Linked DNA regions of Homo sapiens: region 1 is linked to region 2. Evidence: fine-mapped expression QTL. Tissue or cell type: whole blood. Region 2 holds a variant in brackets; the other region holds the start of a gene. All regions are shown on one strand. Distances are from middle to middle.

The links. PIP is the estimated chance that this variant, and not a neighbour inherited with it, causes the effect.
Region 1: it holds the start of ANKRD46, and the variant in region 2 is fine-mapped to the expression of ANKRD46 in whole blood (TOPMed, PIP 0.93).

What each region holds. Positions count from the first base shown.
Region 1 is chr8:100,556,990-100,561,989 of GRCh38, forward strand. It overlaps ANKRD46 (ankyrin repeat domain 46), which reads right to left and starts at 2,770. Exons shown (of 5, transcript NM_001270377.2): 1 at 2,722-2,770. RefSeq lists enhancers at 2,672-2,966, 2,934-3,073 and a silencer at 2,764-2,933.
Region 2 is chr8:100,521,601-100,528,783 of GRCh38, forward strand. ANKRD46 (ankyrin repeat domain 46) reads right to left here. Exons shown (of 5, transcript NM_001270377.2): 4 at 6,245-6,403; 5 at 1-1,171. The coding sequence ends at 955. Among named protein-coding and RNA genes, the nearest start is that of ANKRD46, 35 kb to the right of the region's middle. The variant T/C (reference allele first, on the strand shown) is at 3,152.

The DNA of each region.
Region 1 (5,000 bases), 34 kb after region 2:
TTTGGCTTTCCTGGGCCACAGTGGAATAACTGTCTTGGGGCACACATATAACGATAGCTGATGAGCTTAAAAAAAAATACAATCAATCTCATAATGTTTTAAGTAAGTTTACAAATTTGGGTTGCACAAGCTTGCATTAGTGACTTCCCAAATTTCTATTTCCAGTTGGACCTTTCTCTTCAACTCCCGTCTCTATAACCCCACTTGAACAGGCATCTCAAACCTGACTAAAACTGGCTCCACCTACCTTCACACTCAGTCTTCTCCATCTCAGTACACTGTTTAACTAAAGCCTTCCAATAGCTCAGGCCAAAGGCCACAGGGTCGTGCTTCACCCTTTCTCTCATAAGCACATCCAAACCATAAGCAAATCCTATCAGCAATACTCAGAATACGACGGCTTCTTACTGCCTCTCTTACTACCCACCTGGTCTAAGCCACCATTCTCTCTGGCTTCAATTACTGCATCAACCTAACAGGTCTCCCTGCTTCCATCCTTGCCCTTACAGTCAACACTGAACACAGCAGCCAGAGTGATCCTTTAAAAACCTTAAGCCAGATCCCCTCATTCCTCTGCTCAAAACCCTCCAAACACCTCCCTTCTCACTCAGAGTAAAAGCAAAAGTCCTTACCTGGGCCCATTAGCTCTCTGACCTTGTCTCACCCTCCTTCCCTCCAGGTGCTCAAATCTACTGGCCTCCTTGCTGTTCCTCTCTTGCTGTCCCTCTAACAAGACTGAAGGGTTCTGGGCTTTTGCCCTTGCTTGGTATGCTCTTTCCCTAGACAGCTGCATGGCGGTCCCCAACGCCTTCAGTTTTGCTTGAGTCTTTTCCATGGCACCAGTCCTTATTTTAAAACTGCACCTGTTCCTTCCTTGGTGCTTCCTATCCCCCTTTGCTACTTTATTTTTATTCCTAGTAACTGTTACCATCTGACTCCAGATACGTTAACTTTCACAAATCCCGCTTATCGTCCCCAACCCCACCTTCCTCCAGTGACATGTTAGCTCCTGGAAGACAAGGACTTCATTTTGTTCACTCTCACATCCCCCAGTGCTTAGAACAGAGCCTGGCCATAGAAGGCACTCAATATACGCTTGCTATATGAATGCCGAATATGCAAATTCTTAAATCTATAATAGGTAAGGCTAAGAAGTTTGGGACTATAAAGCCCAACTTATTTCCACAATGGGAAATACAATTTCCCTTTTGATAAAGAACTGTGAGAATCCTTTGTTTTCCATAGTAACACAATTTATATAACATGCCAAAAATTCCTTATCACTTCACATCCTCTCTCCAGTGCCTTTCCTGTATTCTGTAAAATATTAACTTACTATCATCAAAAAATCTTTGATTTCCCTCTGGTACTGCTACCATAATAATGCAAAGGCAAAGTGAACTCACTAAAAAATGGTATGGAAACATAAATAATGAAGAAATGTAATAAAGTGTGTTAACAACCAAACAAATTCATCTCTATTTCAAATCAAATTGTACTGGCACAGTGAGAACCCCAGTCCAAGTTTAACTTTATTATCACTATAGTCCTTAATGAGCTAACAGTTTTCTTACTAAACTCCTTTTAAACTAAAAAGGAGTTCATGTAGGACTCCTGCATATAACCATGAAAACTAAGCCTGAGAGAAATCAGTTCAGGCTACAAATCTAATTGATAAAACTCTTAGACAGCGCTACATGTTTGGCTAGATAACAGACGCAGGGATACTGAAGTAAGGGAGATGAGACCAAATCTCGCTCAGCCTTTGCTAGCTTTCTGACCTTGGAGAAGTCAGACTCTCGGTGCCTCAGTTTCCTTATCTGTATAATGGAAATGGTACCTGATAGGGTTGCTTCAAGGATTAAAGGTACCAGGTATTTAAAGCAATGGCACCGTGTCTGACATAAAATAAGCACTGAAAATAGCTATTACTAGAACATAAAAATAATCCCCACACCACTCATATTACAGCTCTTTAAGAGGCTCCTAGGTACCACCGTCATTTTTTAAAGATTGAGAAGCGCTACTATTCAATGGCATATTTTTACCTTATTATGTTCTGTAGCCAATTCCGAATACCGTGGAACGTTACAAAAAACAGATGTTATTTTCTTGAGGTACTGTTGGGAAAACCTCAGAGAGAACGATCTGCTTTTTAGCACTGCAAGCCAATTAAGGGAGGAAGTTTGCGATTACCCGAGCCCTAAGTGGAAGGTGTGCAAATCCTTCCTTTTAACCCGGGCACCCCGGAGCCATGTGCCATTCTGGAGAGCTCACTCACACCCCAACAGCTTGTCCCGGCGCCTGAACTGTGCGCTCCTGCAAGCACACGCCGCGAAAGCACCGTCTCGCCCCGGCCGAGCAGCTGGACCTGCGGCGTGGCTTCCGCGCTCCACCCCCCGATTAACCGCGAGCCAGGGCTGCCCGCGCTGCCCAGGGGTTCCCCGGACCACAGCCCTAACCCGCAAGCGCAAACGAGAACCCTCGCAGGCCTCTGCCCGGCCCTCGTGAACACACAGACCGCGAAGAAGCCATCACGGACCCGCGGTCGCTTCCTCGGCCCGGCTCCCTCCAGTCGCCGCGGAAGGTGTGGGAAGCCCGGGCACCCTCGCCCCTCAGGGCCCCGGCCAGGCCTACTGGACCTCCAGTGCTACAGGGACGGTGCAGGAGATATCAAGTGGCTCTAGCCCAGGCGCTGCCCACAGGCCCCGGGCCAAGTACCTGCGACTCGAACGAGCAGCAGCGACAGCGGCAGCTTCAAGGAGGCGGTGACGGGCGGAGGGGAGGGGCCAGACAGGGGTAGTCGGAGTCCCCGCTGGGCCAGAGCGGTCTCGCGCTGCAGCCCCCGGCGCGCCCCCTGCAGGTGGGCGGTCCTCACGGTGGCTCGGGCTGCTCTGAGTCAGAGACTCCGGGAAAGCCTGCTCTGAATTAGGGAAAGCATCAAAACTGTGGCTTCAGAAGAGAAAGACAGCCTAGAAGAGGTTTATCCGATCTGAGTCCGGGAGCATTTTGCACTTTTCACGTCCTATTCTAAATTCACATCCCATCCCCTTAGCTAAATGGGGGCTTCAAAGGCAAGGGCAGTTTCATTAGGTGCTATAAGCATCAATTAATAGTTGCTGGCCTCTAGGTAGGTCTTCTATAGACCCGAAATTGACATATTAGGAATAGCCACTAATGATTGGCTGCACTATTTCTAAAATATAACCCTGCATTTTTACTTTTTTCAAAAGCAGTTTGAATCTTTTTTTTTTTTTTTTTTTTTAGACGGAGTCTCACTCTGTCGCCCAGGCTGGAGTGCAGTTGCTCAACCTCGGCTCACTGCAAACTCCAACTCCGCCTTCCGGGTTCAAGCGATTCGCAGTTTGAATCCTTCCATCCTACTTTGTAGGGTTCCTTGACTTATTGCAACATGTACAGCCAAGACTAACTAAAAGTGTGGTGGGACATTCATATGCTGGAAACATTCTTTCATGCAAAACTAGTTTTTTCTTTTTTTCATTTTACCAACTCCAGTCCTACAGCCAAGACAACTCTCACTGCACAGTGACCGTCCTCTGAATTCTAGCACCCTCATCCAACCAAGCCACGCTCTATGGCAAACTTGTCCAACCCCTGGCCCACACCTGCAGGCTGCATGCAGCCAAGACAGTTTAGAATGCAGCCCAACACAAATTAATAAACTCTCTTAAAACATTATGAGTTTTTTTTTTTTTGCAATTTTTTTTTAGCTCATCAACAATTGCTGGTGTTAGTGTATTTTATGTGTGGCCCAAGACAATTCTTCTTCCAATGTGGCCCAGGGAAGCCAAAAGATTGGACACCCCTGCTCTAGGGTATCTCATGGTTCATTCATTCAAGGACCACCTACACCATCTAATAATTTGTTCTTGAAAGTGTCATGTAAAGGTTTAGGACTATTGTCATATTAGAGGAAATCACTATTACATTTCTTTCATGTAAGAATTATAAGATCTGGCCATGCACGGTGGCTCACACCTGTAATCCCAGCACTTTGGGATGCTGGGGTGGACAGATCACTTGAGGTCAGGAGTTCGAGACCAGCCGGACCAACATGGTGAAACCTTGGCTCTACAAAAATACAAAAATTAGCCAGGCACGGTGTTGCACACCTGTAATCCCAGCTACTCAGGAGGCTGAGGCACAAGAATCCTTGAACCCCAAAAGGCGGAGGTCACAATGAGCCGAGATCTCACCACTGCACTCCAGCCTGGGTGACAGAACAAGACTCCATCTCAAAAAAAAAAAAGTTATAAGATCTTAGGGCATTTCACATTTTATTGTGCTATGACTAATCAGCAATATTACTTGTTAAATTGATGACATTTATTAATCAGTTTGTTATTGATGTCCTCCTTCTGGTTGTGTATTGAGTTTATAATATCTTCACTGATGCCTATAAACTATGACAAATTAGCAAGGAAATTAAAGCTTTTCCCAATGTATTAATAAGATTTACTCTTCATTAGTTGACTCATCCAACAATCTGAGAGCCTCTCCATTACTTCTATTCAAATTTATCTCTTCCTCTTCATGAATTACTGCTTTTGATTGATATGAAAAAATGTAGGGATGGTGAAGACAGCTTTTTTCTCTGATGAGATTAAAGTGAACTGCATGCTGCACATATTCTATGGCTCCTTCATGTTACCACACCTGGGCACTTTGACACAGTGGCTGTTAGGAGCTGATATGGTTTGGCTGTGTCCCTGCCCAAAATCTCATCTTGAATTATAATAATACCCATATGTCAAGGGCAGGACCAGGTGAAGATAATTGAATCATGGGGGCAGTTTCCCCTATGCTGTTCTCATGAGAGCGCGTGAGTTCTCATGAGATCTGATGGTTTTATAAGGGGCTTCTCCTTTTGCTCAGCACTCATTCTGTCTCCTACCACCCTGTCAAGAAGTGCCTTCTGCCATGATTGTAAGTTTCCTAAGGCTGCCCCAGCCATGCAGAATTGTGATTCAACTGTGAGT
Region 2 (7,183 bases):
TTGTTAAAAGTCTAACAGGGCCTCCAAATAGGATTGCACATGAAATAATTATGAACTATGATAAAACTGTGACAACACAGCTAGCTTATAGAACTGAGTTTTTCACTATAATAGCACTACAGAATTATGACAGTTAAATATCAGAATTATTTTTCCCTGCTAACTATTCAGTAGAAAAAGGATTTTCTGACTGTAATTCTGATGAACTGTTATCTTTGATGACTAGGATACTCGGGAAAATTGGAAAGTGAACAAAATGAACTCATTTATTTTTCACAGATATTAACAAGCAAAGCAGTTTACAAAAAGATCAAAAATTATCCTAAAAACAAATAAATATAAGATCAAATCAATTATCTTTGAACAAAATATAGCTCATTTTCAAAAGTTTTGTTTGGTTTGTGACTAGACTTAAAAATACTAAAATAAGCCAAATAGATGCTAACAATACTAATTTGCACACAAGATTTGAAAAAAGTACTTCAAGTTTTATCTCTTATCCCTAGAGAAAGTAAATAAAAAGTGGCTCTTGCAAAAATAAATGAAAACAAAACCACCAACAAAAACTAATCATATAAGATACTGTTTTTCTTTTTGAATACTTCAATTGGTCCTATATTAGGATAAGGTTTTGATAGCAAGGACTTCCTAGCTTCTTCCTTTATCTTCCATTCTCTAGTCACTTCCGTGTTTTTATCAAACAAGGCTACGTGTAGGCTTTCCTACAAAGTCAGGTTGAGTCAGAGGTAGCGTTAGGATGCAATATACTTGATCATAGTATGTAGTTAGTTCAAATGAACACATCATTATCTAAAAGGATTACAATAATTAAAAATGCAAAAAGAACATGTACTGCCCTCACTGCTTTGCGCTAAGAAAAATTCTGAGAAACTGAGAACAAACATTGGAAGCCAGGAAACAGGCAATTAATTGCCTCATCTTCCATGAGCTCCTTTAATGCACCAGTTCAGGCTGGTTTTCCACGAAGGGTAGCACCCCACTCACATAATAAGCAATGCCAAGAGACAGCAAAGCAATGACGAAGATCAACAGCAATACTCTCCAGAAGCCCAGATCCTCCACAAACTCCTGCCACGTGGTTCGGAAGCTGGAGAGGACTCCTTCACCTTGCTGCAGGTTGGGATTGAGGAGTGAATGGCTTTCCATGGCACTGTGGAAGAAGAAAGAGCAAAAAGGGCATTAAAAAAACACAGCAATTCCAAAAACATAAAACCACAGGGCTACTATTTAGAAAAGACCAAATACACACACACACACACACACACACACACACACACACACACATATATATATATACACACTCTTACATGCTTACGTATCTGAACAATATATACTAAACTGTAAATTGCTAAATGGTAATGAGTATGTTTCTCTTGGTTTAGAATTTAGTAAACTCAAGTTAAAAATTCTATTTAAAAGGTCCTGGCTGGGCGTGGTAGCTCATGCCTGTAATCCCGACACTTTTGCAGGCCAAGGAGGGAGGATCACTTGAGCCCAGGAGTTCGGGACCAGCCTGGGTAACATAGCGAGACACCATCTCTATTTTTTTTTAAGGTGTCCTGAGCAGAAGTCTTGAAATAGGTTATGAGTTGTCTCCATCAAGATATTAAACCACAACACATTCTTGTTATGTTAAATTTAGAAGATTCAAAGTGCAGACTCATAATTTAAGAATGTGTTAATACGAATAAGCAGACATGCAGGTGATGACACCTGAAGAGGACAGTCATCTACAAGTCAAGCAGAGAGGCCTTAGAAGAAACCAACTTTGTGACACCTTGATCTCAGACTTCTAGGCCCTAGAACTGAGAAAGTAAATGTCTGTTGGGGGGAGGGGGGAAGATGAGTAAATCTAAAAAGTCACTTATACAGTGTGTGTGAATCTTGAAGTTAAAAGGGAATTTTTATTAATTTAGTTCAATAATCTGACCAATGAAGGAATTCCTTCTTTAATTGTAATTCTCTAATAATGGAAGGTTACTCCTCAGCCTGTTGTACATGTGGACTCGTCTAGTCATCAGAAATTCTTTTTTTTTTTTGGAGACAGAATCTCACTCTGCCGCCCAGGCTGGAATACAGTGATGCGATCTCAGCTCACTGAAACCTCCACCTCCCCAGCTCAAGCAATCCTCCTGCCTCAGCCCCCCAGGTAGCTGGGACTACAGGTGCATGCCACCATGGCTGGCTAATTTTTGTATTTTTGGTAGAGACAGGGTTTCGCCATGTTGCCCAGGCTGGTCTTGAACTCCTGAGTTTAGGTGATCCACCTGCCTTGACCTCCCAAAGTGCTGGGATTACAGGCATGAGCCACCACAGCTGGCCTAGTCATTAGGAATTCTTAATAGTTTCTTCCTATTGGTGTTAGTTCTATCTTGTACAGTAAGACAGAATATGTTCATTTCTCTTCTGCATAAAGGCTAGTCTAGTTGAAAATAAGGTAGTGCAAATACCATAAAAACACTGATTCTGGTTTTCAGAACTTTATCAATGAGAAATACGACTACCACAAAGAGAAACTGCATCTGACTTTGGTACTTGGAAGCACTAAGGGAAGAGCACTCATGGTTATATCACAACATACAGGCCCAATAAGAGGGTATCATTTAGATTAAAGCCACCATAACCATGATCATAGGAATCAACTATCTACTGGTTATCAAAGTTCATTACTATCCTTCCTAACTCCCATAAAACAGTATCTTAGAGTCTCATTCATTATGAACTATGAATAAACATGCAAAACTGACATTTTTTAACCTACAACTTTATTTTACTTCTTGATACCATCAAACAAAAGTCCTTCAGCCTTTACCAACATTAGAGGTCTTCTCTGATCATGGGAAACTGACTTCCTAATGGGCCAGTCTGCTTAACACCCAAACTTTTTTTTTTTTAATAATTAAAACATGTTTATTCTCTGAATAAGAGATGATGTTTTCAGTGGGAATCTACAACACCACAGTAATTTTGGAACACTTGACAGCAAGTTTAAAAATAAGATTAGAACTTTGAGAAGGCCTAAAAGAGTAAAACCACAAATAGATAACACAGTTCTGCAGAGGCTTAGTTTGACCTATGTAAAATTTATTGATTACGAGTTGACATGCCCTTATACATGTTAGGTATAAAA[T/C]GAAAATTCCATGAGCATTCTCATTGTTCTTCAGAGCTCATGAAGCTCTGCCAATCGGGATATTCTATAAAGACTTTATCCAATGAAATGCTTTCTACTGTCCAGGGAATATCTGATTCTAACATAATGGGGTGTGTGTATAATCTTTTTTTAAAAACGTGATATCTACACTGTCTTTGGGGGGTGTGTTTGCATGTATCTTTTTTAAAAAATGTGATAGCTATACTGTTTTTGTTATCCCATACCTACAAAGTAAAAAGGAATTAAACTTAGAGTTATATGGAGGAGTGGGGAAATATTTTTCATTAACTTGATTTATAGTCCCTTATAAGGCCTGCAGAAGTTGTGCTGTCTTGGGGGAATCCTAAGAGAAATGGAAAATATTATAGTAAATACATTTAAAACCCTGCTTTATCTTCTGCTCTAGAAAAAGCCATTACACAATTATGCCATAATGCCATGTGCTAGCCAATCTCTTTAAACTTTTTCATCTACATTTATTGAGACATAATTCACATCCCATAATATTTACCTTTTGAAACTGTACAATTCAGTGGCTTTTCATATATTCCCCAAATTGTACAACCATCTCTTCTAATTCCAGTACACTTTCAGCACCTCTATAAGAAACTCTGTACCTATTAGCAGTCACTCCCATTGCCCCTTCTCCCAGCTTCTAGTCTACTTTCTCATCTACTTTCTGTCTCTATGGATTTGCTTATTCTGGACATTTCACATAAACAGAATCATGTAATATGTGGCCTTTTGTGCCTGGCTTCTCCAATGTAGCATGTTTTCAAAATTTATCCATGCTGTAGCATGTATCAGTATAATATAATAATATTAGTAATATTCCATTGGATGAACAGATGATGTTTATTCCTTCATCAGCTGATGGATATCTGGGTGGTATCAATGTTTTGGCTATTATGAATAATGCTGCTATGAACATTCATATATAAGTTTTGTGTGGACATATGTTTCAATTTTCTTTGGTATATTCCTAGAAGTGGCACTGCTGGTCAGATGGTAACTCTACGTGTAGCTTTTTGAAGGACTGCCAGACTTTTCCAAAGAAGCTGCTCTACTTTCCATTCCCATCAGCAGTGTATGAGGGTTCCAATTTCTCCACATCCTCCAGAGCACTTGTTATTATCTATCTTTTTAATTGCAGCTATCCTAGTGGGTGTGAAGTGGCATTTCACTATGGTCCTCATTTGCATTTTCCTAATGACATTACCTTTCAACTTTCTGATTTAAGCTTCAACCACTGAATTTCTACCATGACACTGAGGGGTAGGAGTAAGATAGGAAAACTAGGTAATAAAAGTGTTAATAACTCAATTTTTGAAAAACGAGCTTTATACAGTGTTACAATTAATACAAACTCTCATGCTGCAGTGAAATGGCAGGTATGTGAAGGAAGCAGGAGTACTTCCACTGCTCATCCAATGGAATATTATTTTGTACTTATCACTTCTTAGTAAGTAATCACAACTGAGGCAAACTAATGCTAAAAGTATATTTCTAATAAAAGGGTGCCAAGAAACTGGCTATTAACAAAATAAAGATCCTAAAAATATACCAAACAAGAACACATTCTTGGTTGTTTTTCATGGTAAAGAAGCTTAAAGTACTTAATGTTATTTCATAAAAAGATAAAAATAAATTTCAAGTTATCTTAGAGGAAAAAATCTTTAACAAATAATAGTTAACTCAATATTGTTAAAGTGCTTATGCCATTCTGTCAATCCAAAGTACAGAGGAGAGAAAAACAAGGGCTTGCAAATACATCTCTGACTTCTTGATTATCTATTTGTCAGCTTTCAGTGATCACTCAAGAGGAGTATGCACTGTTCCAGAAGTAAAGCTCTTGGATTTCTTTAGGACTGTATTAAAGTGCTTGAAAGTATCTGAACAAAATAGACCTAAGCTTGAGAGTGGAATTAATGGTCCCCAAAGAGCACATCATCTGGCACACGAGAGGAGGAAAGCAAAAATGGGTACAAAGGAATCAAATGAAGGGTAAGCTATGAAAAACAGAGAGGATTTCATTTAGAACTCACAGAAACAATGATCCCAATGGTCTAAGTGGATTATGTGATTCTAAATCCAAGTCCTAGTCCATCAGCTACTAGGTAAACAGCTGATGTGGGCCCTTGCTTATTCTATTTACAACCTACCGAGAATACTGGGAAGAGGCTATGGAAGCTCAGCATCCTTTTTCCTTCACACGTATAATGTGGAAGGCTGAAACTGCATGGTGGTCAACCAGATAATATGCTACTAGAACTAAGTCTGGCCTATTAACTTTACCTGTTGAGCCCAGTGACATCAGGAGAAAAGATGGTGCGCCACCTTTTTGGAGCTCTCTGAACTGCATTCTCCATTGCTTCTAGATGAGAAATGATGAGCTATTCAAGACCCTGTCAGTTACCACATCTTAGCTTCGATTACTCACAGGAATCCAAATTTCATTAGCTCCAACTCATATGAAAGTCACTTTCACTTTCACATTACTGAACTGTGCATGTGTTAAATACTATCTTGCTTTCCCTCTCTTGTTTTCTTGTTTCTCAGCATTCCACTTCCCTACCCTTGAAACTACCTTTCAGTCTTTTCTAAAATTGCCCAAGTTCTTGGCTTTACTTATACTTCTCTTTTTTTTGAAATTCCATTCTTTTTGTGACCTGTACTTAAAATCATCAAGCTCCGGCTTCCTCCCCTCAGATTCATTTGTTACTATTTCTCCTTTGTACTGTCAATACAGCAGGTGGCTAACAGAACATTATGCGCACATGACATGTAGTACTTTCTGTTAATAGCTTCTCAATTGTAATCTGCAGTCATAAGGTCCTATATAAAGTTCAAGTTGCACTTAAAAGCAAATGAATATTAAAGTTCACAAAGTTAACCATAAATCCACATACTTAAAGTGACTTTCCCCTTAAAAAATCGTATTATCTTGCTGGGTGTGGCTACATGTGCCTATAGTCCCAGCTAGTCAGGAGGCTGAGGCAGGAAGAATGCTTGAGCCCAGGAGTTCAAGGAATGAGTAATACAGTGAGAAAAAAAAAGTTGTATCTCCAGTACCTTTCACTCTCAGCTGTTTGCATGGTCTCCAGTTTCGAGTGGGTTCCTCTGTTAAATCCTTTCACCTCCTGTTCTTCCAAAGATTCCAGCAATCGGATGACATCTTTATTTACTCCTCTGCGCTTTGCCAGAACTAAAGGGGTAGCACCTTGATGATTGCTAAAAAAAAAAAAAAAAAAAAAAGTTTATAAAAATAAAGAAGCCATCATAGCAGTTATACTACATTGTCAGTTCCATTTTTAGTACCCACTTATATAGATCTCAGTGAAGAAAGAATGGGCCCAATTAGGGCCTACCCTAGGGCTGTGGGGAACTAAAGGAGTATTTGGCTCACTACAACTCTTCCACCATGAGCCTTGACCATCTGGCTGCAATCAGATGTTGACTGATGGGATTTTTGCACAGTTCATCACAGAGGCCGTTATCCTGTTAACCAAACACGTCCCCCACCTCCAGACCCCATCCTCACACTGAATGTCTCCTCAACAGCAGATTATGGTAGAAGTAATAGCCGTGTGCCTCTATTTTTTTCTGAATTGTACTATAGAAAGTGTTTATGAAGAACAAATCACCAAGGGGAAAAAAAGGATGGGTCCAGTTTAACTCAAAAGTAAAACCCAGAGCTGAGCCAAACATCCAGTGTAGCTGAATTTTGAATTAACCCTTGTTTTTCTTTTTTTTTTTTTTTTTACTTCCAGGGAAAAGAAAAAAGAGAACATATAGTCAAAAAAGTGGATAAATCTAGTTCTAGATTCATTCTTATTTGATATTTACATTTTATGAGACAAGTACTTTTTTTAAAAAAGTCTAAGAAAAAAATGTCAAATAAGCTGCTTCGGTTCACGCAGCTATTTAGCGCTAATAATAGGTTAGAACCCCAATCACATTAAATCCTGCAGTCAATTCCTACCCCATTTTGTCCTGCAGAAACAAAAGCAT